4 linked regions of the Homo sapiens genome follow. The protein of the gene in region 2 purifies or fractionates together with the protein of the main gene of each other region. This does not show direct contact. Each region holds a gene or a part of one and is shown on either strand. Other genes may lie near its edges. The genes, in order: NOTCH2, ZFP41, LIMA1 and FBLN1.

Region 1 (7,024 bases), on a different chromosome or scaffold from region 2:
GTAGTTAACCCTATGGTTGAAACAGCTCTATTTGACTAAAGTTATTCTTAGGGGCAAAGAATTCCCTGTACTTCTTGTAGTAACTGGTTATTAGTTTCACATTTGCCACCTTTTCCTCTGATAGTATCATTTCTGTAAAGAATAATGGGAAAGTACAAGTCTTTTTAAGCTGGGGGCTCTTCTCTAAACACGTTTTTCTGTTCAAGTTTAAGTGCTGTTATTTTAATTGGACATTTAAAAATATCTAATATTAATAGAACAATTAATACATGCATAAGATACTAACTATCCTCTGCTTTGGGATATTATTTTTCTATCCCACTACAATCTAACCCATTTTATCAGCCTGTTTAGTCTCAACACACTGTACATGAAGCAATGTGAAATCCTTCCCTTTCTGAGCTGATAATTTCTTTGTGGCTACATTCCTTAAGCATTCATTTCCTCGAGCTGATTTAGAGTCTGTGAAATTGGGAAGGGGTTTATGACTGGACAGGGCAAACACAGGGACAACAATGTGGAACCATGGGCAGACACAGCCCAGTGAAGAGGGGAAGAGGCCCGGTGCTGACCTGGGCCACGGACATTCACATCTAACACATCCACCTCCTGCTCTGCCTGAGGAGGGGTGAGAGCCAGCGATGGTGTCCTACGGATGTCTGCAGCTTCAAGGTGCTGCTGTGTCCATGGCCGTCGATCAATGGGGTCATCTTCTTCTGAGAGTAAGGCCTCATCTTCAGCCTGAAAGGTGAAAACAATGCTCCCTATCAATCTGGCCACCACCAGAAACTGCTAATCAGAAGGTGTCCAGAGCCTCCACCACCGCTGCTTATCTCCCATTGTTTTCTCTCTTCCTACTCCTCCACCCCTCCAGAGGATTACCTCAGCCTTGGCTTCCCACTGCTCTCGTGATGTGGCTCCTGCTTACCTTTCCTGCATCATCTAGACAACTCCCTCCCCCAATCCCAAACTCTAGGCTTTAGCCTTTAGATCTCCAGAGCACCCAATTCTCACTTTTCCTACCCTCCACTAGAAAGTAAACTTTAATTCTTCTTGTTGGCCCTAAAAAGCATACTCTGCTTACCTCTGCTTAACTGATCATGTGTTAAATGCTTACACAGCACTACATGGCCATCTCCACCACAAGGCTGTAAGCTTCTCAAGAAGGGAAAATAAGCCTTGTTCAAGGTTGTTTCCTTGTACTCAACATAGCACCCAACATGTAGTAAGCACTCAGGAAAGACTATTCAATAATAATAATCATGATAATTTAAAAGCAGCTACCCTTTACTGAATACCTAGTACATGACAGGAAAGTAGATAAGGCACATATGCCAACACAACAACTCACAGAGGAAAGGGTTATTATTATCCGCATTTTACAAGGAAGGATAATTACAAAGAGGTTAAGTAACTTGCCAGCTACTAAGCGGCAGAGTTTTGGATTTGAATCCAGTTCTGATATTAACTAAAGCAATCTTCTTAACCATCATGCTCCACCAGCTCCCAGCCATGCACAGCTGTGGATGGATGGTCTGCTTTTTCATGTCAGTCTCAGCCCAATCTACCACTTGCTTTTATATGGCTTTAGTTTCCTGGGCTCAAGGTATGGAGCCTCCAATGTCAACGTTTTGCCATGATCACTGGCTTTCATTTTGCCAATGTCAATGATAACTGGCTTTCTTCCACTGCTTAATTTCATCTTCTCTTATAGAAGAAGTGCCCATAAAGGATAAGGAAGAGATGTGGCCATGAAGGAATTGCCATCTACACACACCATTCCTGACTTGACTACTGCCAGCATAACACTAAAGGAAACAGATGTGCTTAGTATTTTTAAAGAGTTATTCTTGAAGAGCATATATAGGTAACCCAAGGTCATTTACGTCCTAAGGATTCCTGCTGTTTAGGAGAACCTAGGATAGTTATTGTCTGGGTAAGACATCAAGACTATCACTCTTTACTCCCATTCAGGACACTCTGGAGCTAAAGGACAGAAATTTGAAATGTAACCAGATAATGGCTGACAATGGTGGTTCTACCATGGCCACCTCACCTTTACTTTCTTTGGCTGGGGCCCTTCATCATCGACCCAGTGTTCACTTGTTCCAGTACCAATTAGGTTAGCTTCTGAGACTTGCACTGAGAGATTTCTAATATGATTATAAAAAGAAAAAATAAGAATGGCAGTCATAAACTAATACAGTGGTTTTCAACACTTTCCACCATGACACACTCCCGTGGCTATATTACAATTTTGCAGGGTCTTGGCCCAGAGAAGATGGGCAGTATTTTTGGTGACATTCCCTTGGCATTCATCCTTTCCCTTCCCATTGATCGTGAGCTTACAACAAAAGGGCACCTCAACACAGAAGCTGGGCGGCATTGTGATAATATACACAGAATAGATGCACCCACGCTCTGACTGTGGTTTCAGTCACTCACAAGGCATTTAGAATCATGGTCAATGTGAGTAAATGCCCAGAGCTTAGAATTTAAAATCATGATTCAACAAGATATGCTTTTCTAGTCATCCCTACTTATACTGTGAATAGTGGCTTATTGGCAATGCCTCTTACTTCAGCCCCACAGCATCCTGTCCCACTGGCTCACGACGCTTGTGATTGCTTGCATCTCGGCGAAGAGTGAAACCTTCAGGCAGCCAGAGAGAGCCATGCTTACGCTTTCGTTTTGCCATGATTACCCCCAGCAGAATAATAAACAGAATGATGACAACAGCAACAGCAAGGAGATAGAGGAGCTGAGTGCGTTCTGGAGTCAGGGATTCACCTGAAAGTCCACAGAGACAGGGAAAGTGCTGAATAAAACATTAACCTCTCAATGTCAGCATTAGATTCATTTAGAGGGCAACTTTGACCTCAACAGTCCTGAAAAAATAGAGGGCTACATAATGAAAATTGTTCCCCCAATTGACACTCTTCCCCCGCCACCTTTCCCCTTTACACCAGTGCCACTCACTGACGACAGACACAAGAGGGTATGACAGGGTCCCCTGTATGGCGTGAGAGGCCAGGAGAGCTGCTGCTGCATCCGTGTTCTTGAAGCAGTGGTCTGAGTCTTGAACACACTGGCGGTTGTCAATTTCCAGAAAGACTTTAGAGCTGTGGGATGCCAAGGGAGAAGCGGAGGAGGAGAGATGGGGGTAAAACAGAAGAGTGCAGGTCAGGCAGAACATGTCATAAAGGGTGACAGGAGCCTCCCTTCCTCCCCTTCAGCATCAGGTCCCCACCTCTGGGATGCTGCCTTAAGACATATCTCAGGAATTAGAATACTGTCCCTTGAGATCTTAAACACTAATTCCCACATAGAGGATGTCCCACCTTCCTTAGTCTGGCTGACCAAAGCCTTCTGGCTGAGGCAATGCATGACAAAGTGAGAAGCTGTGCTTTCCTCCCGAAGGTTTCAGTGGTCTTCTTCCACTCTTTCATACCTACTCAGTGGTACTTGGTGCTACTCTAAACATACATCCCTGTGTGTTTTTAGTCCTTATTTTCCTTTGTCTCTGCATTGGTATCTCAGCTAGCTGGAGGGTTGAAAGTTTGACAATATACCAACAAAGAGTGAGGTGTGAATGACAGAGCAACTGAAGATCATTACCTGTGTCAAAGAGACATATATTCTAAAGAAGGGCCTTAACAATAAGGCAATGATTAATGTAAAAAGGAATGTCACTAATAAAGGGATTTGAGGCAACTCTGGCAAAAGGTTATGGATTCTGGCATCTGAGGAGGCCTTCCAGACATTCTGCCTCCTGTGTACCCCTGCCCACTTTTCAGCCAAGACGAAGGCATATCTTTACATTTAAACGTAAGTACTGGGGTAACGGGTTTATCTTAAGTGGTGGGCCATTCTATTTTTCTGATCTTTGCATTTCTATAGGTTGAGTTATGACTTGTGCTATATGTCAAAGTGCTAGGCTTCATAAAATTAGCCTTGAAGTTCAGAAACCAAACACCTACCCAGCCACCTCCTGTTCTTGTTCACCAGGAAGGGATCTGCGTGTCATCCTCTGTTTCTTCATAGCAGCTGACTTCTCACCATAATAGGGGTACACCATGAGTTCCCCCTGGGAGTCCCGCTTAATGCGCAGGTTGGTGTGGAGCAGGGTACCCAGTGCCCGCAAGAAGCTGCGAGCATCCTGGAGCAGTTGTTCAGGTGGCATCAATACCACAATAACCAGGGTACCTTCTGCCAGGTTCTCAGGTTGGTCAGCAGCACAGTCCAGCCCATCCCAACCACACTCCTCACTGTTGCACCCCTGGTCACAGTGGTTGTCTTTGAAGTGGTCTGCACAGTATTTGTCATACCTAGGTAAGGGGAAGCAGAGAACAGGCAAAAGAGCTCAGATTAGACTGGAGCTCTATTTGCTTTTTCATTTGGAACTACTGTGGATTTTCCTACCCATTTTCTGTGGCCCACACCCAGGACCCAAATGCCCCACAAAACCTTCTTTGCATCTCCTATCCCTGATGCCTATGCCACTCATCCTTGTTGAGTACTTCCTAAATGAAGAACATTGTACTCACTATGCTGCAGGAGCTTAGGGGCTCCCAGGCAGTTTACAAGCCTGTTAAGTCAGGTTTTCAAACAAAGCTGCATATCTGAAACAAAAGTCAACCTGGTTCATGCTTCCTCTACTTTAGAGAAATCCATTGCCCCCAGTAAGGTAACAACGGGCTTTAGGAAGTGAAAGATGCCTCTAGAAACTTGATACAAGGCCCTGAACCATTGAGAGTTGCCATACAGAGAACAATATTAACATGACCCATTTCTTTCCCTTTCAAGAGTGAATCCCAACTACAGAAGGTAAAGGCAGATGGGTATGTCCTTATAGCACACCAGATATTACTTGTACAGGCTCTTTCAATATTTGGAAAAGGAATTAGAACCCCCAAACCTAAATGATGTACAAACTATTCCATCTATACTCTCCTCTCCTCATCCCCTACCCCTTGATATTTATACTATTTGGTACAACTTTTCATGCTAGCTCAATCAGAAGATTAGGAGTCAAAGAAACAACTTGCTTTGGCAAGTTCTTTAACCCTTGGGCCTAAGTTCTCTCACCTATGAAAGAATGTTAGTAATACCTATGCCTCGTGAGTTGCTGAGAATTAATTGGGATTAAATTATATGGAATGGCTAGTTAATAGGAAAGTTCCTAAGTAAACCATAGAGCATCCTATACAATTAAGACCGGGAGGGTTCACAGACTTAATCTAATTCATGCTTCCTGATAAATCTAGATGGGGAAAAACAGTCTTAGGGAAAGGAATGGGGTGAAGAGAGAGATACAGACCTTTCCATCCATCCTGCAGGCAGGTTATGTGAGAGGCTGCTTGAAGTGGGAAACACCACTTCCAAAAGTTATATCCCCCAGGAGGTCACGAAGGCAGCAGGTGAGAAGGCAAAGATAGGCAGAGAGAGAGGGTCATTATGCAATGAGCATTCCTGGCCCATTGTCAGCAAGGGAGAGCACAGGGCAGTGTGCGATGGGACAAGGCTGGCACCATCTGAAAAGCAGAGGCAGCTTAGGCTGAAGCACTGGAGTGGTTAGGAGCAAGAACGAGAAACTGAAGTGTGTTAGTGACAGTCCCCTTCAGTTCTGGAAAACGTGAAGCCCTTACTTGCATGTCTTGCTGTTCCCCTGGCATTCAAAGTTGTCAAACAGGCACTCGACCGTGTTGCACAGCTCATCACACTGGTTGTTGATATAATCCCAGCAGGGAAGTGGGGAGGAGCAGTTGGCCCAGGGGTTCTCCATGGTGAGAGAACAGTCACCCCCATCCCACTGGCAGGCATGGCTGTTGCAGGCCTCATCACAGACGCCATCCCGAGCTTTGTCGGCACAATACTGGCTCAGACAGGTGGCAGGAGGGGTGCTGGGGGGTGCCGTGTAGAGTTCACAGCGGCTACCCGAGAATGGTGGGGCACACTGGCAGGAGTAATAAGGAGGCTGGCGCTGAGGGTGGCAGCTGCCCCCGTGCTGGCAGGGGCTACTGGCACAGCCTGACTCGCAGTCCCGGGGACTGGGGCAGAAGCAGCGGGGTCCAGAGGCGGTGTGCACACACTGCTCCCCCTTCCTACATTTCACTTGTCCACAGCTGCTCTGGCACCTTGCCCCGGAAAATCCCTGTGGAAATCAGTGAGGAAATAAAAATGGCATTGGTAGGAAAACAGTCATATTGGAAGTTTGAGGTTTCTAGAAAACCTCCACATCTCACTCCCTTCTGTACTTCCCGTTCAGCCCAAGCCAAGGTTACTAGACAGGTTTCCTTTTGGTATCTCCCGAGGCATAGGGATCTCTTGTTTTGGGAAGGTTTCAACCTCTGGCAGTGATAAAAGAATGGGTATAGCAAATAGCTAAAATTGAGCTTCCCTCTACTTTAAGAGACAACTTGCTTCCAAATGGTTCCTGCTAAAGAATGTAAGAGCAGCATTTCCACCAACTCTGGCCCAATCTGGGCAGTGAGATTACCCTCCAGCCTGGGGCCAAGAAGCCCCACACATCAGCCCTATTTTCAAGGGGGCACTCCACCACTTTTTGTGGTTTTCCCTTAGTTTTTCTTAAGACTGACAGTCATGGATTGGGAAGCTCACTGTTTCTGGGAGTGTCTAAACAGCTTTTATTTGTTTTTGTTTTGTTTTGTCACTTGTAAACAGCTTTAAATGGAAAAACCCAAGCACTTTCCTCTGAAAGAGCTAAAATTGAGAAATCTTCCCATTTCGAAGATTGGTAAAACCAGGTTTAATCTCAGTTCTGTTCACAGATTGTATGGAAGAGACAATGCCCCTTCTTAGATGAGCAACAGGGCACTTACCGGGGGACAACGGCAAATGAAACCATCAGGCATGTTACTGGCCACAGCACAAGTCCCTCCATTCAGGCAGGGCATCTGGGGACACACATCGACGAAGGTTTCACAGTGCCGGCCTCAGAAAATAAAAAATAAAAAAGGTTTTAAAAGGCAGAAGTAGTCACTGCAAGTTACTCAACAAACTT
Region 2 (7,047 bases):
AAAAATCAGGGCTTCCAGGCAGAAACATCAAATAACTTTCAGGAGCATGAGAATTAGATGGGCCTGAAACTCCTCAAAATCAATAAAAATGAACATAGCAACAACGAAGCAGCATTTTCAAAAATCTCAAGAAAAGGGAGAAAACAACGAACTGTGCAGCCATTCAAGCTTTCCTTCAAGGAATTACAGCTTCAAGAGAGCAGTTTTAAACTTGCCAGAGCTCAGGGGTCCTGCAACTATAGGCCCATCAGGAGGAACCTCCTAGATGGGCTTCCTCCAACCACAAGCTGCTTACGGGTCAGCCGTAAGACCCACGGGGGTGATACATTGAATGGTAGACCCAACATAGAAAGAGAAGTGCAGTCGAGAGGGGAAGAACCATATGTGCTGTGTGTGTTCTGACAAAGTTGAAATGGCATGACTTCAAAAAAAACACCAGGAAGAGGAGGAGGAGTGGGAGGAGGAGAAGGGGGGGAGGAGGAGGGGGAGGGGGAGGGGGATGAGGGGGAGGGGAGGAGGGGGAGGGGGAGGAAGAAAAGGGAAAAGCTCCCGGGTGGTTGTGCAGGCAGTAGGGAAAAGTGAAAGGGCACCATTCAATCCAACAGGCCAGACAGTAAACCACTCAGGAGGAAAGCAGTTCTCTGTCCCTCTCTAAGCTAAGAGACCGAAGTGTTTGTCTCCTGTCCTCAGTCCTCTTCTCTGGTGGCTGTCCCCTGCAGAGCAGACTGGGACCCCACTCACTAGCAATAGGACTCCCACATCGGAACATAGGACTGTGACCCAGAGGTGCCCAGGCAGCCATGAGAGGCAGCCCGCCACCCAGAACAAGAGGCCTGGGCTTCCGGGCAGCTCCAGCCTTTGCAGCACGCAGGCAGGGCACAAAACAGGGATGTGCGAGAGAAATGAGGAGCAGAGACATGGCAGAGCCTGGGGCCCCCAGCCCCTCTTCAGAGAGGCTGCCTCTGTGGGAAGCTCTGCAGGAAAGGGGTCCTCAGCCCTTGGAGCTTCTTTCCATATTTACAGGGTAGCTGGAGCGGGGGGGTCTGGTGACAATGGGAGATTCCGGGCCAGGGAAACAGCCTCTGCCCACATATCACATACCAATGGTGTTGGCACCAAATGGAGTCTCTGGTGGGCCGGCCCAGCCACCACCACGCCTGAAGGGACTGGAGGGGCCACCTGGCTCATTTAGAAGGCAAGGGGCTGTCTCTTTTGAGATAGGGGAAGGACACCTTTCTCCTTCTTCTGCTTTTGTTTTTTGTTTGTTTGCTTTTGTTTTTTTTTTTGAGATGGAGTCTCGCTTTGTCACCCAAGCTGAAGTGCAGTGGCATGATTTCAGCATCACTGCAACCTCTGCCTCCCAGGTTTAAGCAATTCTTTTGCCTCAGCCTCCCAGGTAGCCAGAACTACAGGCACGTACCACCACACCCGGCTAATTTTTGTATTTTTAGTAGAGACAGGTTTTCACCATGTTGGCCAGGCTGGTCTCGAAGTCCTGACCTCAAGCAATCCACCCACCTTGACCTCCCAAAGTGCTGGGGTTACAGGCATGAGCCACTGCGCCCACCCTGCCATTCTTATTCTCAGTCTTATTCTCTCTGTCCCAGCCCCATCAGTCATCAATTGCTCAATAAATATGGATTAGGCACCTGCTATGGGCTATGTGTTGGCCCCCGATAATACAAAGATGAAAAAGACAAGCCCTGACCGAGGGTCATGTGCAGCATGTAACCTGTATGGACAGCTACCCACGCAGCCTTGGCCTAAGGCTGGCAGGGGCGAGGCCGGGGCTGGCACAGAGGAGCTCGAACAGGTGGAGTCTTAAAAAGCAGGAAAGGGTCTGTCAGGCGGAGGCGGAGCGGGGGTGTTCAAGGCCCAGGGTTGAGGCATGCAGCCGATGCTGTGTGGCAGGGCAAGCACTTGCTGCTGAGTCTCCTGGAAGGGGAAAGGGTGGTGAGAGGGGCGGCCTGCAAGTCTGTGCAGGCCCCTTTGCAGCTGCTAAGGGGGCCCAGACCTCATCCTGCAGGACAGGCGTGAAGCTGGGAGGGCCACTGTGGGTTTGCCCGGTAAGTCAGTCCCTCCAGCTGCTGTAGGAGGGGTGGACAGGGGAGCCCAAATGAAGGCAGGGAGACCCCAGGGCAGGGCACAGAAGTAATGCTGGTGAGAGGAGATGGGGTTGCAGCCGGGACAGAGGAAGCAGGCTGGACAAGAGTGGGTGGTTTAAAACATTGGGAGGTAAAAGCAACAGGATGGGAGAGGGGGGTGGGACGAGGAGGGAGCAGAACTGCCTGGTTTTCAACACCTTGCTAAGTCCAGGAGGCAGTTGGAGAGAGGGCTGGGTGGGGGCAGGCAGTTCCTAGGGTGCCACGACACCAGCAGCACCTAAGATCTCCACTCATGCTCACTCAGTCCACACGACACGAGGGCCCAGCACACATCAGGCACCCAGAACAAGAACAGGTGGCTGCCCTCCAAGAGCTGATTTGCATGGGAGTGTGGGAGCGGGGGATAATTAATAATAAATATAATAAGGAAATCATATAGAAAGTGGAAATGGGAAGTGTTGGGGGGGCAGAATGCTGCAGATATCCTAAGGAGATGTGCCAGAGCCAGCCCAATGCCCATCCTTCCCTTGGCTACAGGCGGCACTTGTGACTTGAATCTGAGTAGAACTGGGCCGAGGGGGTGGCATGTCACCCACAATTAGGTTCTGTTCCACAGGACTCCATCTGGGGGTGGGGCTCTCCCACGGACCCTGGGGAAGCGGCCACCCTGTGAACCGCCCACCCTCCCACAGTAGGGACTGGCAGGCAGCCCCCGGGAGCTGAGAGCAGCTCCTGCCGGCCCTCAGTCCTACAGGCACCAGGACATGACTTCTGCCAGCAATCGCATGAGGTGGGAAGTGATCCTTCCCCAGTCCAGCCCCCAGATGAGAACACAGCGGCTGACCAGAGCTGAGGACCCAGCTAAGCCTGGCCTTCTGGCCCACAGAAGCCTTGAGATAATAGGCGGATGTCGTTTTAGGACACCCAATTTGCGGTACGTAGGGAACTAACACGCGGGGCTCTGGCGGGCCTGGCGGCTCAGTGCGATCTGGGCAGGCAGGAAGTGGAGTGAGCACAGCCAGCGGCTGGGAGCACATCCCGGAGGGGCTGCCTGCGGCGGGAGGAGCGGCAGGGGCCACGTGGTGGGGGACGGCTCGCCAGGGCGCGCACGCGGTGGCGGCGGCGGTGGAGGCGTTGCCCGCCTAGCTAGGGGCCCGCGGCCTGGAGAGGCGTCGGTTCTCCTTCCGCGCTGAAGGCGGAGACAGCGACTTCCCGTGGAGGCAAGCCGTGGGCGCCGCGGAGGCGGGGGCTGGGGGTCGGCGGAGGCGGGAGCTGGGGGTCGGCGGGGGCTGGGGGTTGGCGGGGAGCGTCCTCAGGGACAAGTCTCCCAGCACGCGGCCGCGACCTCCCCGTTGGGGGTCTGGAGCCAGGAGCCCACGCGCGTCGGATCCGGAGAGTCTGGTGGGCGCAGCCTACGTGACAGGGTCGGCTCGGGACCGAGCTGCTGGGGACTGGGCCTTGCGGGGCGGGGCCGCTGGGGGCGGGGCATGAGGGTGCCGGTTCGGGGCGGGGCTTTTTGGGGGCGGGACATGGGGCGGAGCCTGGGGGCGGAGCATGTGGGGAGGTGGCTGGGGAGGAACTTTCGGGGGCGGGACACGAGGGCGGAGCCTGAGGGGGCGGGGCATGAGGGGAAGCCGGCTCGGGAAGGAGCTTTCGGAGGCGGGGCCCGCTCGGGGAGGGACCTGATTTCGGGGGAGCCTTCGGGAGGGCGCCTGCCATAGACGACTGTAAAGGGGCGGGGTCAGCTCGGGGAGGACCCTGCGGGCGTGGCGGCAGTTATGGGTGAAGCCTGAGGGGGCGGGGCCTGATCGGGGCGGGGTCTTCGGGGGCGGAGTCGGCTGGGGATGGAGCCGCTCGGGCCGAGCCCTCCACCGCCCACCATCACCGAGTCCGGCCCAGGCTCCTAGCGCGGCCGCCGGAAGGGGCGGGTCAGCGGGCGGGCATTTCCTGCCGGTGCCTAGGGCCGACGGGGACGCTGGCACTGGTGGGGAGCTGTTGGGGGGTCCCGCATCTAGGGCTCTCCTTTCCTGCCTCCGGCCCCCGCGAGGGGCGCGCGCCTCTCCCCGCCCTCCAGCAGTCCTGGTAGGGCCCGGGCGCGTCCGCGCTCTGCAGCGGGAGGTCCTCGTCGCCTCTCGTCTCCAGCCAGGTACTCACTGGGCTCCTGCCTGCCGCCTCCGGCCCAGGACGCGCAGCGTCGGTATGGGCCCCGCCGCCTCCCCGCACCCCGGCGCTCCAGGGATGTGGCAAGACCCGGCTTTGAGCACCTCCCGGGCGCCGGCCCCGAGGCCGACCTAGCTCTGCACGTGGGCCGCGGGGCTCTGCCGTTGAAAGGAGAGCCTCTAACTAGGAGCACGCACGGGACCCTGGCGGGCCCCTCCGCCTGGCTCAGATGCCTGGCATCTCAGGCCTTGGCACAGCTAGCAGGCCCCTGGCAGGCCGTGGACCCAGCAGGCTGTTTTAGTGCAGATTGCCCCTGAATCTCAAGCCCACTAATGTTCCAGTCTCTCCATGAGACCCAGATCCCTGAAAGTAGTGGAGGGAGGCGCCAGGGTGAGTGAGGTTTTCTAGGCAGCCCTTACCGCCCACGGATACCCAGAGCTTCATATTACAAGTGAAGGGTCCTCCGCCCAGAGAGGCGACGGAGCTACGCTGGAGTTGCACGACAGAACCAGAACCCCAGTCTTTAGGGGTGTGGCAAGCGTGGGTTGCGCTGTTTGTAACTAGCTAATCACTCCTGTCTACAGGCCTGTGAGGTGAGGCCAAGAAAATCGCTATGGTCCAATCCGTTTTTGTTTTTTGCGTGTGGGGTTTTTTGTTTTGGTTTGGTTTGGTTTTTTTGTTTGAGACGGAGTCTTGTTCTGTCGCCAGGCAGGAGTGCACTGGCGCGACCTTTGCTCACTGCAACTTCTATCTCCTGGGTTCAGGCAATTCCCCTCCCTCAGCCTCCTGAGTAGCTAGGACTACAGGCACGTGCCACCACGCCCAGCTAATTTTTTGTGTTTTGGTAGGGACAGGGTTTCACCATGTTGGCCAGGATGGTCTCGATCTCCTGACCTCGTGATCCGCCCACCTCGGCCTCCCAAAGTGCTGGGATTACAGGCATGAGCCACCGCGCCCGGCCAGTCCACTCTGCTTTTAAGAAATATTTTATTTCTCAGGGTGGGCAGCGTGTAGAGAAGTGAGTCATTCCAGTCTCTGCCGGTTAGCACCTGCCAGCCTAAGTTGAGTCGACAGAGCCGTTATGGAGAATGTTCCCTGACCACAGTATGTGACTAGGATTTGGAGATAAAAAAGATACGATCCTCGCCTTCAGGAGACCCTGTCGCATAAGGAGACTGCCATGTCAGTGACCAGCCACACGTGCAGTGACAAGTGTCTGGAAGAAGGAACAGTGCTGTACAGCATGGAGGACCCCCACACAGGCCTCGGGCAGCAGCCGTTAGGCTCAGTGGGTTCACAAACCACCCCCCGCCCCGCCGTGGAGTGGAGTCTGCAGAGAGCCAGATAGGTTCCCGCCATGCCCTGGAGAGCTGCCGTTTCTCCAGCTCCGCCCTGCCCATGAGGCAAACAGCTGGTCGACTGGTCTTCTGTGCTGGTTCTTGGTTCTCACCTTTGTTTCCTACCAGAGCTGGACCCCGGCCTCAAACTCCAGCCAGCTTGGGCTGTGATCCTCTATCCTGGGCACCAGGGCCCACCCCCTGCCCACCCCAGCAGAGATGCTGCTTTATGCCTGCATCCTCCCTCAGCACACGTGGCCTTCATCTTCAGTTCTGGCGCCCACCTGATCTGCCTCCTCCCACACGCCACCTCTAGATAGAGCCCTAGAAAGTGATGTTGGCCTGAAACTGAGTCACATTCATCTAAACATTTTCCTGTAGAAAAGACCAGACCCTCCTTGTTGAGATAGGAAATCTGTAGTGAGTTTATGTGTTACCTGCACTCATGAGGGAGAGGAGGGAAGGCCACCAACCTCCTCTCAACAAAGAGAATTCAAAGTATTTATGTGTTGAGTTGTGTCACTTACGACATGCATATCAGCTCCACTTTCTACCTAGGGTCAACCCTGGCCTCAAACTCCAGCCTGGTTGACCAAGAACTAATACAAAGGGTACGGAATATTATTTCTTAGAATATGACTGGGCATGGTGGCTCCCACCTGTAGTCCCAGCTACTCAGGAAGCTGAGGTGGGAAGGATGTGACATGAGGGGTTCTGCTGGCTGCTGTGGTCCATGGCAGGGGGGCAGCCCTGGTTTCATGAACTCAGAACCCAGCCTCTGGGGGATGGAAGCACTCTCCACTGGGCACGTGTGGTCCCTGCAGCCTGTAGCTTCAAAGCACGGTGACTGGTTCCAAGCCCAGTATGGTGGAGAAGGAGACTACGGCAGGAACCAGGGGGATTCGGGGGTGGAGGAGGGAAGCCGCAGGGCAGTTGGTGGGTACATCAGATCCTGTGGACATGGTGTGCAGACCCGGAACCCCGGCAGAGGAGCAAGGATTCCTTGGTGAGCAACTGATCCCTTCATCGAGACAAGGAAAGGCCGGGAGAGAGTCAGGTGGGGCTCCGGGGAGATCAGCAATGCCGTTTGAGACACTCTTGGGGGAACACATGGGAAGGGAGGGGCCGCACCTGAATCCCACATCCCCTGAAAGGCAAACCTTTAATCTGAGGTTCATGTTCTTGCTTCTCCCCAGCACCAAGAGGATGGTGGCCCTTGGCCTCCTGGTGCAGAGCATCAGTCCCACGCTGGGAGTGTGGAGAGGTGCGTGGGAAGCAAGCCATTGAGGAAGTGGGGCCAACAGAGAGGTCAGCAGCCCCTTAGCCCTCACGCTTCCAAGGAACAGAATGATGGAGAAGCCTGCAGGCAGAAAAAAGAAGACGCCGACCCCAAGGGAGGAGGCAGACGTGCAGAAGAGTGCGCTCAGAGAGGAGAAGGTGTCCGG
Region 3 (7,024 bases), on a different chromosome or scaffold from region 2:
AACATGTAACACATATTCTTGGAATTGTGCTTGAACTTTGACAGAAAGCAAATATCTGTATTAAGAACACAGAACCCGTTTCCTTTTGGTTGTTCTTTTCTTTTTTTCTTTTTTTTTTTTTTTTTGGAAATGGGGTCTTGCTCTGTTGCCCAGGCTGGAGTGCAGTAATCTTGGCCCACTGCAACCTCCACCTCCCTGGTTCAAGCGATTCTCCTGCCTCAGCCTCCCCAGTAGCTAGGATTACAGGCACGTGCCACCATGCTCAGCTAATTTTTGTATTTTTAGTAGAGATGGGGTTTCGCCATGTGGGCGAGGCTGGTCTCAAACTCCTGACCTCAAGTGATCCACCTGCCTCGGCCTCCCAAAGTGCTAGGATTACAGGTGTGAGCCACTGCACCCGGCCCCTTTTGGTTTTTCAAAAGAAGTTTATCAGTAGGCTTTCTCCCATTTTGAGTTTTGAAAATTCTAATTTTTGTAGTGGTTATCTTCCAGTGCAGCAGCATTTGGAATAAATATGTGGAATTTTCTTTATTTTAATGATCAGCAAATAAGAAGTATGTTGAAAACAAAATAAAAAGGTGGGCCAGGCGCGGTGGCTTACGCCTGTCATCCCAGCACTTTGGGAGGCCAAGGAGGGCAGATCATTTGAGGTCAGGAGTTTCAGACCAGCTTGACCAACATGGTGAAACCCCAACTCTACCAAAAACTCAAATAATTAGGTGTGGTAGCAGACGCCTGTAATCCCAGCTACTCTGGAGGCTGAGACAGGAGAATTGTGTGAGCTTAGGAGGTGGGGGTTGCAGTGAGCTGAGATCACACCACTGTATTCCAGCCTGGGTGACAGAGTAAGACTCTGTCTCAAAATAAATAAATAAATAAAAATTAAAAATGTGGATTGAGGGTATCCTGCCAGACATATCTTTTCCTTTTGACCAAGATCTTCATTATCTTTTTTCTTTTTTTTTTTTTTTTTTTTGAGATGGAGTCTCGCTCTGTCACCTAGCCTGGAGAGCAGTGGCACAATTTCTGCTCACTGCAACCTCCATCTCTGAAGTTCAAGTGATTCTCAACCTCAGCCTCCTGAGTAGCTGAGATTACAGGTGCGCACCGCCACCCCAGCTAATTTTTGTATATTTAGTAGAGACAGGGTTTCACAATGTTGGCCAGGCTGGCCTCGAACTCTTGACCTCAAGAGATCCACCCACCTTGGCCTCCCAAAGTGCTGGGATTACAGGTGTGAGCCACCGCACCCAACCACTTCATTTTCAGATAGCGGCTGCTCCTAGAGCAAGAGTATGTTGAGCTGTGTGAGTCATATGGATGTATAATAATTCATGAAAGTATGCCTGACCTGTGTGTGATGTAGCACGGATAGTGTTGTTCCAGCTTGTTTTAGTTTTTATTAAAAATAGACCCAATCAGGCCGGATGCAGTGGCCCACACCTGTAATCCCAGCACCTTGGGAGGCCGAGGCTCCTTGAGCCCAAGAGTTTGAGACCAGCCTGGGCAACGTGGTGAGACCCTGTCTCTACTGTAAAAAAAAAAAAAAAAGAAAGAAAGAAAAAATAGACTTAAATCAACAATATAAATTGCAAAGCTGACTGGATATAAATTATTATTATTACTTTTTGAGCAGGGTCTTACTCATCACCCAGGCTGGAATGCAGTAGTGCGGTCACGGCTCACTGTATTCTTTTTTGTAGAGATGGAGTCTTCCTATGTTGCCCAGGCTAGTCTTGAACTCCTAGGCTCAAAGGATCCTCCTGGCTCAGCCTCCCAAAGTGTTGGGATTACAGGCATGAACCACCAAACCCAGCAAGGAGACAAATTATATATACACACACACACATATGTAATATGTATATAATATATTTTTATTTTTATTATTTCTTTTGAGACAGGGTCACACTCTGTTGCCCAGGCTGGAGTGCAGTGGCATGATCTTGGCTCACTGCAACATACACCTCCCAGGCTCAAGCAATTTTCCTACTGCAGCCTTCTGAGTACCTGGGACTACAGGCGCATGCCATAATGCCCAGCTAACTTTTGGTTTTTTTTGAGACGGAGTCTTGCTTTGTCACCCAGGCTGGAGTGCAGTGGCCTGATCTCTGCTCACTGCAACCTCCGCCTCCTGGGTTCAAGCGATTCTCCTGCTTCAGCCTCCTGAGTAGCTGGGATTACAGGTGCGGGCCACCACGCCTGGCTAATTTTTTTGCATTTTTAGTAGAGACGGGGTTTCACCATGTTGGTCAGGCTGGTCTCGAACTCCTGACCTCGTGATCCTTCTGCCTCGGCCTCCCAAAGTGCTGGGATTACAGGCGTGAGCCACCGTGCCCAGTCTAACTTTTGTATCTTTTTTGTAGAGACAAGGTTTTGCCATGCTGCCCAAGCTGGTCTCAAACTCCTGGGCTCAAGTGATCCACCTGTCTCAGCCTCCCAAAGTGCTAGGATTATAAGCTTGAGCCACTGTGCCTAGCCTTGGGAGATATATTAAATATATATTGAATTTGAAAGAAACTATTCTTACTGGTGTGGTATAAACAGACCAATCCTTGGCTCTGATTTCTGATGTGGTATGTTTTCTGTCTCCAAGGAGGGGGTATAAAAAATATGTAAAAGTGATAGTTCACTTTCTTTTCTTTTTTTTTTTTTTTGAGACAGGGTCTCACTCTGTTTCTCAGGCTGGAGTGCAGTGGAGCGATCTCTGCTCCCTGCAACCTCTGCCCCCCTGGTTCAAGCAATCCTCCCACCTCAGCCTCCCAAGTAGCTGGGACCGCAGGTGCATGTCACCACACCTGGCTAATTTTTTGTATTTTTAGTAGAGACAGGGTCTCACCATGTTGCCCAGTCTGGTCTCAAATTCCTGAGCTCCAGCAATCTGCCCGCCTTGGCCTCCCAAAATGGTGGTTTTACAGGTGTGAGCCACCATGCCCAGTCTCACTTCCTCAAACTTTACAGTAAAGTTGATTAGTCCATTGAACTTAAAGATTTAGTAACTATTTACTAATGTTAAATTCAAAAGGGTGCTAAGTGTTTTATTCTTATCTCCTGTCATACTGGATTTCAGATATCTTTTTTAACCTCAAGTTGTCTGGAAATAAACTGAGATTTGAATGATAGGATCTGATGTAAGGATCTCATTATAAGCTGAATAAACATGACATACTCCCTGTGTACTATGTCTGGGAATATTCTTTGACACTACAGTCTTAAAAATTATAATTTGTAACTTTCATTAAAGATCTACCTTAGATATGACAGAGATAAATGTAGTAATTTAATGGAATCACAAAACACTTCATTAAAAAAAATCTTTGTTGGCCAGGCGCAGTGGCTCAAGCTTGTAATCACAGCACTTTGGGAGGCCGAGGTGGGCGGATCACCTGAGGTCAGGAGTTCGAGACCAGCCTGGCCAACATGGTGAAACCCTGTCTCTACTAAAAATATAAAAATTAGCTGAGCATGGTGGCAGGCGCCTGTAATCCCAGCTACTCAGGAGGCTGAGGCAGGAGAATCACTTGAACCTGGGAGGCGGAGGCTGCAGTGAGCCAAGATCACATCACTATACTCCAGCCTGGGTGACGGAGTGAGACTCTGTCTCAAAAAAAAAAAATCTGTGTCATCCACTTTTCTGTAAGTCCTGGAAATATATGGACAAAAAGGCATGGTCTCTGCCCTTAGTGAGCTTACAGTGCAGTAGAGGGACAGTCACCCAACAGTTTGACCAGGTACCTTGAGAACAGAGGAAAGATTACCTAAATTTATGTTGGCAAGGTACTCAGACTTCATAGTGCTTACACTGAGTCTTTGAAGGAACAGGCATTTGTAAGGCAACAGAAGGACAAAGGAGGCTGGCTCGGTAGGGACCAGATCTAGAACAGGACTTCTGTGACTTACTAAGCACTTCGAGTTTAATTTCAGGAATGAGTAGGAATGCTGAAAGAATTTTGAAAAGGAGGGTAAAATAGATTTATATTTTTGGATAATTACTTTGTATTATTGGGGATAATGGTAGCATCATAGAGACTGGATTGGAAGATAATGAAGAACCAGTTAAAGAGGTATAATGCAGTAGTCCAGGGGAAAGATGATGAAGACATGAACTAAGGCAGCAATAGCAGAAATAACATGAGACGGAGAAAGGAAACAGCAGATTCTGCATCAGCACTTGGCAGTTTAGAAGGACATGTCATTGTCATCTGGTATGTGAGGATTCCCCTCCAATAAGTGTTACAAAGCTTGCTGGTTAGGAAGCCATCTTTAGCAGAGAATATTACCTATATAGGGTTACTTATTTTTCCCTGGGCACCTGTGAATGTGTAGTGCTTGATATTTGTAATTTAAAAAAAATTCTATAGAATATAAAATATAAAATCAAATCTGGATTTTATTTATAAAGAAGGTTTGCAAGTTGAACCTTGCGTCAAGATTTCCCATTGTTTCTGCAAAACTTATCGTTGGGTTTCGTTTTCCAGATTCTCCGGGCCCAAAGCCGAAGTGCAAGTGGAAGGAAGATCTCTGAAAACAGCTATTCTCTAGATGACCTGGAAATAGGCCCAGGTAAGCAGAGAGTTCCATGTGTATGAGGTCCTTTAGGAAGTACTCACTAGTAGTAACATCTTTTGGACTCGAAGCCAATGCTTTTAAAGGAAGAGTGGCACAAATTAAAAGGAAGTCTGCCTATTAGATGCAAGCCATTCTCAAATCTCATTGCTCTCGATAAATAGCTTTTTTTTTTTTTTTTTTTTTGAGACGGAAGTTGACGTGCTCCCAAAGTGCTGGGATTACAGGCATGAGCCGTCATGCCCGGCTGCTTTTTTCATATTTTTAATCCACCCTTGTTAGTGGTAACCTATGGTAAGCAAAGGGTACTTTGAGGAGCTATAAGTAAAGTGCTACGATCAGTTTTGCCTCCAGTCATCTGGGGTTTGAGGGCTTCAGTAGATGGGCTGTGTCCCCTATCAGGTTTGGTTACCCTGTATTACCAGTGATAACATAACACTTTGAGAGTGGAATTATGTTTTAAAGGGGACATATACAGGCACTTCACAAAAGAAAAAATTAGTAAAAACAGGAAAACATCAGCTACCTAGTCATCAAAGAAATGTAAATTAAAAAGCATTGAGATCTCTTCTTTTTCATGTTAAATTAGCCAGAATTTTAAAATACGAGCCCAGGCATGGTGGCTCAGACCTATAATCTCAGCACTTAGGGAGGCTGAGACAGGAGGACCACTTAAATCCAGGAGTTTGAGACCAGCCTGGGCAACATAGACCTATCTCTACAGAAAAAAAAAAAAAAAGCCCAGCGTGGTGGTGCATCCTTGAAGTCACTGCTACTTGGGAAACTGAGGTGGTTGGATCATTTGAGCCCAAGACTTCAAAGCTGCAGTGAGCTATGATTGTACCACTGCCCCATACTCTAGCCTGGGTGACAGAGTGAGACCCTGTCTCAAAAAATAAAATATGCAATCCTCAATTATGGTAAGGTTCTTTTAATGCTAAGAAAGTGAGTGAATATTACTTTATAAATGACAATTATATTCCTGATTTTCTTCTTCGTGCTTTTAACAGAAGATATTGGCCATTAGATAAAAATAACCCAAAATTTAGAATTTTGAAATTATTTGAATCACTTTTATCTTCTAATAAAACATGTTGGCCAGTCACGGTGGTTTACACCTATAATTCCAGCGCTTTGGGAGGCTGAGGCGGGAGGATATCTTGAGCTCAGGAGTTCGAGGCTGTAGTGAGCTATGATCGTGCCACTGCACTTCAGCCTGGGTGATAGAGTGAGACCCCATCTCAGAAATAAAATAAAACATGTTATTTGGATGCTTCCAGGTCAGTTGTCATCTTCTACATTTGACTCGGAGAAAAATGAGAGTAGACGAAATCTGGAACTTCCACGCCTCTCAGAAACCTCTATAAAGGATCGAATGGCCAAGTACCAGGCAGCTGTGTCCAAACAAAGCAGCTCAACCAACTATACAGTATGTGTTCTGCATCATTCATTCATTCATTCATTCCATCATCCAGCAGATGGTCACTGAGTACTGGAATTAGGAAATGTCACCAGACCCTTGTATCTGAGCCCTGGTCCCCTAGCTGTTCTCTTTTCACATGAACCCTACCCTCGCTGGATTTGCAGTTCTTACCATGGTCTAATCCTGACTTTGCTTTCTTAGTCCTGGTTCCCACCCCACTCACTTTTTTTGTGATGTTACCAGTGAGTATCATTGAGAGTTTCCCTGGCTCTTCTACTTAATCTTTGTGTTGTTAAAGAAGTAGTATTTTATTAGTTTTAATATAACTCTTATTTTATCTTGGTTGTTGAGGGAAGAAGGAAGAAGACTGAAGAGCTTATTTTGGCTTTTGAGGGAAGAAAGAAGAAGACTGGAGAGAAATATCAGCTGTGTTCATTAACGAGGGTTTTTTTTGTGATTTTTTACTGAGATATAACTCACATAATATAAAATCACCATTTTAAAGTATACAATCTTGTGATACTTAGCATATTCACAAGGTTGTACAACCATTACCACTGTTTAATTCCAGAACCTTTCCATCACCCTGAAAAGAAACTTCATACCTGTGTAGTCACTCCCAACTTCCCCTGCTCTCATCCCCTGGCAACCACTTAGCTACTTCCTGTCTTTATGTATCTGCCTATTTTGGAAATTTCATATGAAGGAGTCATACAGTAGATCTTCTACTTAATCTTTAATCCTTACGATGTACTGTTTTCCTAAAGAAGTAGAATAGTAGATAAGGAAAAGGGAGAGATCACAAGAAGGTGACGTGCTCAGTAAGCATGAAAATTTTGATATTCAGCTGGGTGTGATGGCTCACACCTGTAATCCCAGCACTTTGGGAGGCCGAGGTGGGCAGATTGCCTGAGGTCAGGAGTTCAAGACCAGCTTGGCTAACGTGGTGAAACCCCATCTCTACTAAAAATACAAAAATTAGCCAGCATGGTGGCAGGCACCTGTAATCCCAGCTACTTGGGAGGCTGAGGCAGGAGA
Region 4 (7,024 bases), on a different chromosome or scaffold from region 2:
CTATGATCCTAGCACTTTGGAAGGCAGAGGTGGGAGGATCGCTTGAGCCCAGGAGTTCAAGCTTGCAGTGGGCCACGACTGCACCACTACACTCCAGCCTGGGGGACAGGGGGAGACCCTGTCTCAAAACAAAAAAACTAAAAACAAAAGAACACCCTGAGGATCACAGCTCCCCCGTGTGTCCTGTGAGGGTGGGGCGATGGGAGTGGGGAAGGGCCTGGGGTCCAGCCCCACCCTGGCTGTGCCTCCCGCATCCCTGCAGGGACTTCCAGCTGCTCATTTGCCTGGGGATCCGGTCACCTGTGGATATCCAAACACCAGGTGTCCTGAGCTTCGCTGCCCCATCACACAGGCTGGGGACCATCTGAGGCCCACAGAGGCACCTCCCACCTCACTGTCCTATCCACCTGCTCATCAAGTCCTACCCCATGTGTTGCCTTCTCAGTGCCTGCCCAGGACTCTCGGCCAGGCTGGGGTGGGGGCAAAAAGGGGACTGGGGCTAACAGATCCCCCACGCCAACTCCACGCCTCATAGGTACCAAGAGTTCTGCGGGGGTCAACAGCATCCAACCAACTGCCTGATCAGTCAGGCCCCCCACCTTCAGAAGGGTGTCAAATCAAGGCCATTTGTACACAAACCCTAGGGCAGCTGAGCAGCCCTGGAACACTGTGAGTCAGGAGGATAATGTGGGCCAACCGAAGCCACGCCTGCTTCTTCCATCCCAGACCGCCAACAGCTGTGAGCAGCTCTGAGATCCAAAAATTACCTCTGACCAGTACCACACTGGACACCCACCCAAGCAGAACAGGCACTCGCTGGTAACTCGACACTGGGCTGTGGGGGATCAAGAGAGAAGCAGGGCCTCAGGGGACCTGGAATCTTCTCTCCCAGATCATTTCCTGTTGTTTCGGAGGAGTTTCAATCAACCAGTCTCAATCTGACCCCTGCATCTGACCATGTGAGTTAGATCCAAAGCATAATATTAGATATAAACCAAGAGCAAACTCTTGCAAAATCTCGTTAACCTTCAACTCGAATGTTCCCAGGGAAGGCAACGCTGCGGGTTAAAACTGCTCAGCCTTGAATCCAGCTCCCTCCCTTACTAAGACTCAAGGAGGCTCACTTCCTTCATCTGTAAAAATGGGGGAAGAGGCCGGGAGCAGTGGCTCATGGGTGTAATCTCAGCACTTTGGGAGGCTGAAGTGGGCAGACATCACTTCAGTCCAGGAGTTCGAGACCAGCCTGGCCAACATGGTAAAACCCAGTCTCCACTAAAAATACAAAAATTAGCTGGGCATGGTGGCGGGCACCTGAAATCCCAGCTACTCAGGAGGCTGAGGTGAGAGAATCACTTGAACCCGGGAGGCAGAGGTTGCAGTGAGCCAAGATCGTGCCACTGTACTCCATCCTGGGTGACAGAGTGAGACTGTCTAAAAAAAAAAAAAAAGCCAGGCATGGTGGCTCATGCCTGTAATCCCAGCACTTTGAGAGGCCGAGGCAGGTGGATCACCTGAGGTTGGGAGTTTGAGACCAGCCTGACCAACATGGAGAAAGCCCGTCTCTACTAAAAATACAAAATTAACCAGGCATGGTGACGTATGCCTGTAATCCCAGCTACTCGGGAGGCTGAGGCAGGAGAATCACTTGAACCCAGGAGGCAGAGGTTGCAGTGAGCTGAGATCATGCCATTGCACTCTAGCCTGGGCAACAAGAGCGAAACTCTGTCTCAAAAAAAAAAAAAATGGGGGAAGATTGATGAGATAATCCAGGAAAAGTGCTTACATTAGCACACTGACCACAGGAAAAAACAGAAGCTTCAAAATTAAACAAAAGGAAAAGTTATCACACCAGGATTGGGAGAACATTCTTTTTCAAAGGAACCACACACTCCTCCAGGCTGACACGGTGCCCGATGGCCAACACGCCACCACATCCACCACCTCTCTTCAGGAGAGACACATGCCTGCCGGAGTAACTGGTGCAGATGGATGGAGCTGGCTCAGTTCACAGGCCTCAGATACCGTTTGTTGCCTGGGACAGCTGCTAAAACTAAATTTTTTCCAGGTGAGTTAAACCTCCATAAAGATTATGGTGTAGATCAGCGGCATGCCCCATGTTCCAAGGCATGCAGAGAAACACAGGTCACATGGCCTGCGGGGACCATGCCCTGGACACCCAGGAAGGATATGGCCACGTGCTCTTTCTAAGACTACAGATGCTCAGAGAGATTCTGTACCACTCCTTGGGTGGAAGCTTCCAGAATGTCAGCCTGCTAGCTGTAAACATCGCAGAAGCTTTGGGCAATGCCTGATCCCATCCCCAGCAGCCTGTGAGCCACGAGGATCTTAATTCCCAGGTTGCTGAGCAAGCAGACTGTCACAGAGGGGAGACTGGGGGCTGGGAACCGGGAGGCCTGGAGTCTGCTTCTGATCTCATGGTTGAGAGTTTTCCCACCCGGAGCAAGTCCGGGCCTCAGTTTTTTCATTTATAAACTGAATGGAGGATTTGGCCTGCAGTTAAGAGCAGGCTTCCCCAATCCCACCCTGTGTAAGGGCATTGCTCTGGCAAAATTTCCACTGGGTTGCAACAAAATAGGGTGAAAGCAAAGCAGGATCCAGGGACCTCTACAAAGCCGGCCCGATTCCATCTACAATACTGTCTTTTATTGTGAGACCGCGTCCTTCCAAAATCCGGGGCATTAAAATGTCCCCTACCTCTGTGAAGTGGTGACGATATGAGATGGTGGTTGAATGGGTGTCTGTTTTTTATTTTAATATCCTCATCGGGCAAATGAGGATATTTTAAGTTGGCAAAGCTCCGTGAATAGCTGGGGATGAAGTAAAGGCATGTGATCAGAAGCCAGCCTCAATTTCCTTGATTTCCTCTGCTCAAGCTCAAAAACTCAGAGGCAGCTGAGGGCGTCAGGAGTTTTTAAAAGTGAATGGGAGCTTGAGGCTTCATCCTGTGTGCCTCCCGGACTCACCACACAAAAGGATCATGCCCCCACCCCACCTGCCCCACAGCATTGTCTAAAGCTACAGCAAAGAGTTGGAGTGGCCTCCGTGGTGTCCAGAACCAAGGAACCGAAAAGCCTGAAATGCAACAAGATGTCAACCACAGAGACCCTGATGGAAAGTTCCAACCAAACAGGACTGGGCGACTCCACCCAACCCCCACCTGCACCCTGCCCCTCCTGAGTAGCTGGGATTACAGGCGCCTACCACCACGCCTGGCTAATTTTTTGTATTTTTAGTAGAGACGGAGTTTTACTATGTTGTCTGGGAAGCCACCAGGGGTCCAGCCAGATTGGCCTATGTCCCTGCATCCCTTACAGTTCCAGGATGAGGACAGACTCGTGTCCCCTCTTCAAGACCACCTGGCCTCTGCAGGAGGAAGCAGGGCGAACTGGAGCCTGCTCTTAGGGCTCCTGGCCCCATCCCCAACACAAGACCTGACTGTGTCCACTGCTGAGCCTGTTCCCAGCATCTGTCATGGAGATGACAGGGGTCTTGGATGGTGAACCAGCCGGGAGGAGGCAGCAAGAGAGAAGGAGCAGAAGGTACCTCTCTGGGAAGGCGAGAAGCATTCTCCCCACAGTTCCCTCCAGGCAGCTCTGGCCCCGGCAGCAACTTCCTACATCAGCCCAGTGCACAGAGGGGCATCCTCATCCTTCTGCAACATCCCACCCTGCTCCAAGGGCCTCCTGGGCTTCCAGGACGCATCTCCCCTGGTGTTCCTCTCACCCCTCTGGCCACCTGTCATGCATCCTCTGCACCTGGCATTTGGAACCTGGAGCTTCAAAGGCTGGAGGGTCCCAGGACGCTTGCTCTCCTCAGGCCAGCTTGTTCATGCCACACCAGCTCAAAGGTCCCTTCCTCCAGGAAGTCCTCCCTAACTACCGCCAATGCACACACATATGCACATATACACGCATGCACATGGGACAAATATGTTTTCTTTCTTGCATGGTCTCTTTGTACTCTGAGCTTCCCAGCACTTAGCACAAATAATTAACTCTGTACTTAGTGCCATGAGTCTGAGCCAGACACTGTCTCATTCTGCCTCCTGCCCCCATGCCTGCCCTAAGCAGTCATTCAATAAATGTCCGTGAATGAATGAACGCACAAATGATCTCACATGATCCTAGGTATTCTATAAAGTGGGGGCAAAGAGAGAATCACCAAGTTGCCCGAGGCCATGCAGCCTCTGCAGAGGCAGGCTTCAGATCCAGCTCTGACTGTAAAGCTCATACACACCCCACCATCACACTCCAAAGGAAACAGGCATCCCCCCCTGAACTAGACTTAAAGATTCAAGTCTTCTAAAGGTGCGTGAGGCTGGCTGGGCGCGGTGGCTCACGCCTGTAATTCCAGCACTTTGGGAGGCCAAGGTGAGCAGATCACGAGGTCAGGAGTTAGAGACCACTCTGGCCAACATAGTGAAACCCCGTCTCTACTAAGAATACAAAAAATTAGCCAGGCGTGGTGGCGGGCACCTGTAATCCCAGCTACTTGGGAGGCTGAGGCAGGAGGATTGCTTGAACCTGGGAGGCAGAGGTTGCAGTGAGCCAAGATCACACCCCAGACAGTGCAAGACTCCGTCTCAAAAAAAAAGATACGCGAGGCTGTCCAGTGTGCTGGTGAGGGGTATGACGTCAGGGCCAAGCTGCCCAAGCTCAAGTCCTGCTGCTGTCACTTAGCAGCTATGCACCCACAGTCTTGCTACCTGGACTCTCTGGGCCTCCATGTCCCCTCATTGATGAGGGGGACAATGACAGCACCTCCTTTGCAGGGCTAGGGTGAGGGTATAGCTAGGTAACACAGGTGAACTGGGGCAGGGGTGGGGCAGGAAGGTGCTCGAGTCCCCGTGCTGTGGGGAGACCATGCTGGGTGCACAGGTGTTGGATTTCCATCCTCAACCTATCACACGCATCAGTGACTCTCAGAAATGGCACTGTGCAGGTCCATAGAGGAGTTCTAGGCCAAAACAAGAAGCCGGGCTTCATACCTAGGTAGCAAAACTCACAGGACCTTTTCACTCCAGTGGGTAACAGGATCCAAAATGAAAAACAGGGCCAGGCGCAGTGGCTCACGCCTGTAATCCCAACACTTTGGGAGGCCGAGACAGGTGGATCACTTGAGGTCAGGAGTTCAAGACCAGTCTGGCCAACATGGTGAAACTACATCTCTACTAAAAATACAAAAATTAGCCAGGTGTGGTGGCGCATGCCTGTAGTCGCAGCTACTCAGGAGACTGAGGCAGGAGAATGGTTTGAATACAGGAGGTGGAGGTTACAGTGAGCCGAGATCACACTACTGCCCTCCAGCCTGGCCGGCAGAGTGAGACCCCGTCTCAAAAATAATAATAAAAAATAAAAATAGGTTCAAAACAACACTGGATCACCTATTTCGTAGGGCTGCTGAGATGACGACATTGGTTACTAAATGTAAAGCATTTCACCTATAATAATTACCCAGAGGACACTCACATCTTATAGTGAAGGAAACAGAGGCAGAGAGTTTGTGGGTGTCATCAAGATCTCTCCAGACACTTTCAGAATTGGGACCAACACACAGCTTCCTAACCCCCTTCTCATGTTGGCTCCGCACAGTGTAGTAACCCGCAAATAACCTGTAGGAAGCTATGGCGACTGGTGCCTCGCTCCCTCCCACCCCAGCCTCTAGTTAGGACCACTGTGGGGTTAAAGGAGGTGGGGCCCAGCCCAGCTCTAGGCCCAGCCCCAGCCCCGCTCCTCGCTGGGTGACTTGTGGCAGATGACTTAGCCAGTCCTGAGCTCCCCTCCAGCCTGAGGGGGTCTCCTATCCCAGGGAAGTTGACACAGTGGTTCCCCCCTCCCACCCTGTTTACTTATAGGGCCACATGTGAGATCATCACAAGGAAACTGGAACCATATGGGGCCTACGAAAGGATTCATTCATCAAATTGTTATGATTTGCTATTCTGCAAAAGGAAAATCTTGTTGTATAAAATATGCTGGCAAAATAACTACATGCCCTCTTAGAACTGTTCTAATAAACTTCACCTGGAAGGCGGCCCTGACCAGGTGCCCAGTGCTCAGAGCCCGGGCTTAAAGTCTCACCAGGTCAGGGAAGCTGCTGGAGAAGTCTCTAGACAGCACAGTCTCCCCCAGTGGTGAGGAGGGGGTGGAACTGGAAGGAACTGGAAGTGGGTAGAAGGAGGGGGTTTCCCTGGAAGTCTCGTGTTTTCTCTTCCTTCCAGGTATTTGGCCCTGCCATTTCCCCTGCCAGGAACACCCTTTCCCCCATCCTCCCAGCCCTACCCACAGACTTAGCCACTGCCTTTTCCTCCTTAGGTTCCCAGTTTGCATGCCGCTTCCTCCGGGAAGTCTTCCCTGACTCTGCCAGTAGGGCTCAGTTCATTTTTCTGGATCTCCTAGTTGCATGAGGGGGAAAAACTGGGTCTCTCTCCTTTCCTGCCACATCCACAAGTTATAGAGCAGTGTCTGGCACTGAGCTGTCCCTTAGTGAATGAATGACTGAATGGCTAAGAACACCACCTTTCCTGACACGGGTTTGGCACTGACGACTACCAGTCCTATAGCCCCATGGGGCCTTCTGCTCAGCGCCTGGCTGGGAAATTCAGTAGTAGTAGAATGTGCAGAGGCATCTTGGGGAAAACAATTCTGGGGTATTGGCAGAATTGCGCTCTTCCCGCGCTCCCCTCACATCAAGCCTCATCTCCTCCAAGGAGCCGCCAGGGAGCCCCCAAGGGCTGCGAAGGCTCCTGGTGCCAACACTTCCTAGAGAAGGGGACAACAGGAATAATAGCTAACATTAATAACAGGGCTGCCAGCCGGCACGGTGGCTCACACCTGTAATTCCAGCACTTTGGGAGGCCGAGGTAGGTGGATCACCTGAGGTCAGGAGTTCGAGACTAGCCTGGCCAAGATGGTGAAACCCCATCTCTACTAAAAGTACAAAAATTAGCTGGGCGTGATGGGCGCCTGCAATCCCAGCTGCTGGGGAGGCTGAAGCAGGAGAA

Evidence for each region.
Region 1: the proteins of ZFP41 (region 2) and NOTCH2 purify together in Homo sapiens (affinity purification with mass spectrometry; 3 studies listed by BioGRID and IntAct, with this or other methods). This does not show direct contact.
Region 3: the proteins of ZFP41 (region 2) and LIMA1 purify together in Homo sapiens (affinity purification with mass spectrometry; 3 studies listed by BioGRID and IntAct, with this or other methods). This does not show direct contact.
Region 4: the proteins of ZFP41 (region 2) and FBLN1 purify together in Homo sapiens (affinity purification with mass spectrometry; 3 studies listed by BioGRID and IntAct, with this or other methods). This does not show direct contact.

What each region holds. Positions count from the first base shown.
Region 1 is NC_000001.11:119,919,657-119,926,680, forward strand, and holds part of NOTCH2 (neurogenic locus notch homolog protein 2 isoform 1 preproprotein), read right to left. Parts: intron 6,956-7,024; coding exon 6,843-6,955; intron 6,155-6,842; coding exon 5,649-6,154; intron 4,329-5,648; coding exon 3,981-4,328; intron 3,123-3,980; coding exon 2,980-3,122; intron 2,791-2,979; coding exon 2,580-2,790; intron 2,154-2,579; coding exon 2,057-2,153; intron 742-2,056; coding exon 573-741; intron 1-572. UniProt on the Homo sapiens protein: Functions as a receptor for membrane-bound ligands Jagged-1 (JAG1), Jagged-2 (JAG2) and Delta-1 (DLL1) to regulate cell-fate determination.
Region 2 is NC_000008.11:143,242,892-143,249,938, forward strand, and holds the start of ZFP41 (zinc finger protein 41 homolog), read left to right. Parts: upstream 1-4,047; 5' UTR 4,048-4,251; exon of another isoform or gene 4,252-4,858; intron 4,859-6,798; 5' UTR 6,799-6,952; coding exon 6,953-7,047. UniProt on the Homo sapiens protein: A putative DNA-binding regulatory protein associated with meiosis in spermatogenesis.
Region 3 is NC_000012.12:50,203,520-50,210,543, reverse strand, and holds part of LIMA1 (LIM domain and actin-binding protein 1), read left to right. Parts: intron 1-4,475; coding exon 4,476-4,560; intron 4,561-5,843; coding exon 5,844-5,992; intron 5,993-7,024. UniProt on the Homo sapiens protein: Actin-binding protein involved in actin cytoskeleton regulation and dynamics. Increases the number and size of actin stress fibers and inhibits membrane ruffling. Inhibits actin filament depolymerization.
Region 4 is NC_000022.11:45,505,877-45,512,900, reverse strand, and holds part of FBLN1 (fibulin-1 isoform D precursor), read right to left. Parts: intron 1-7,024. UniProt on the Homo sapiens protein: Incorporated into fibronectin-containing matrix fibers. May play a role in cell adhesion and migration along protein fibers within the extracellular matrix (ECM).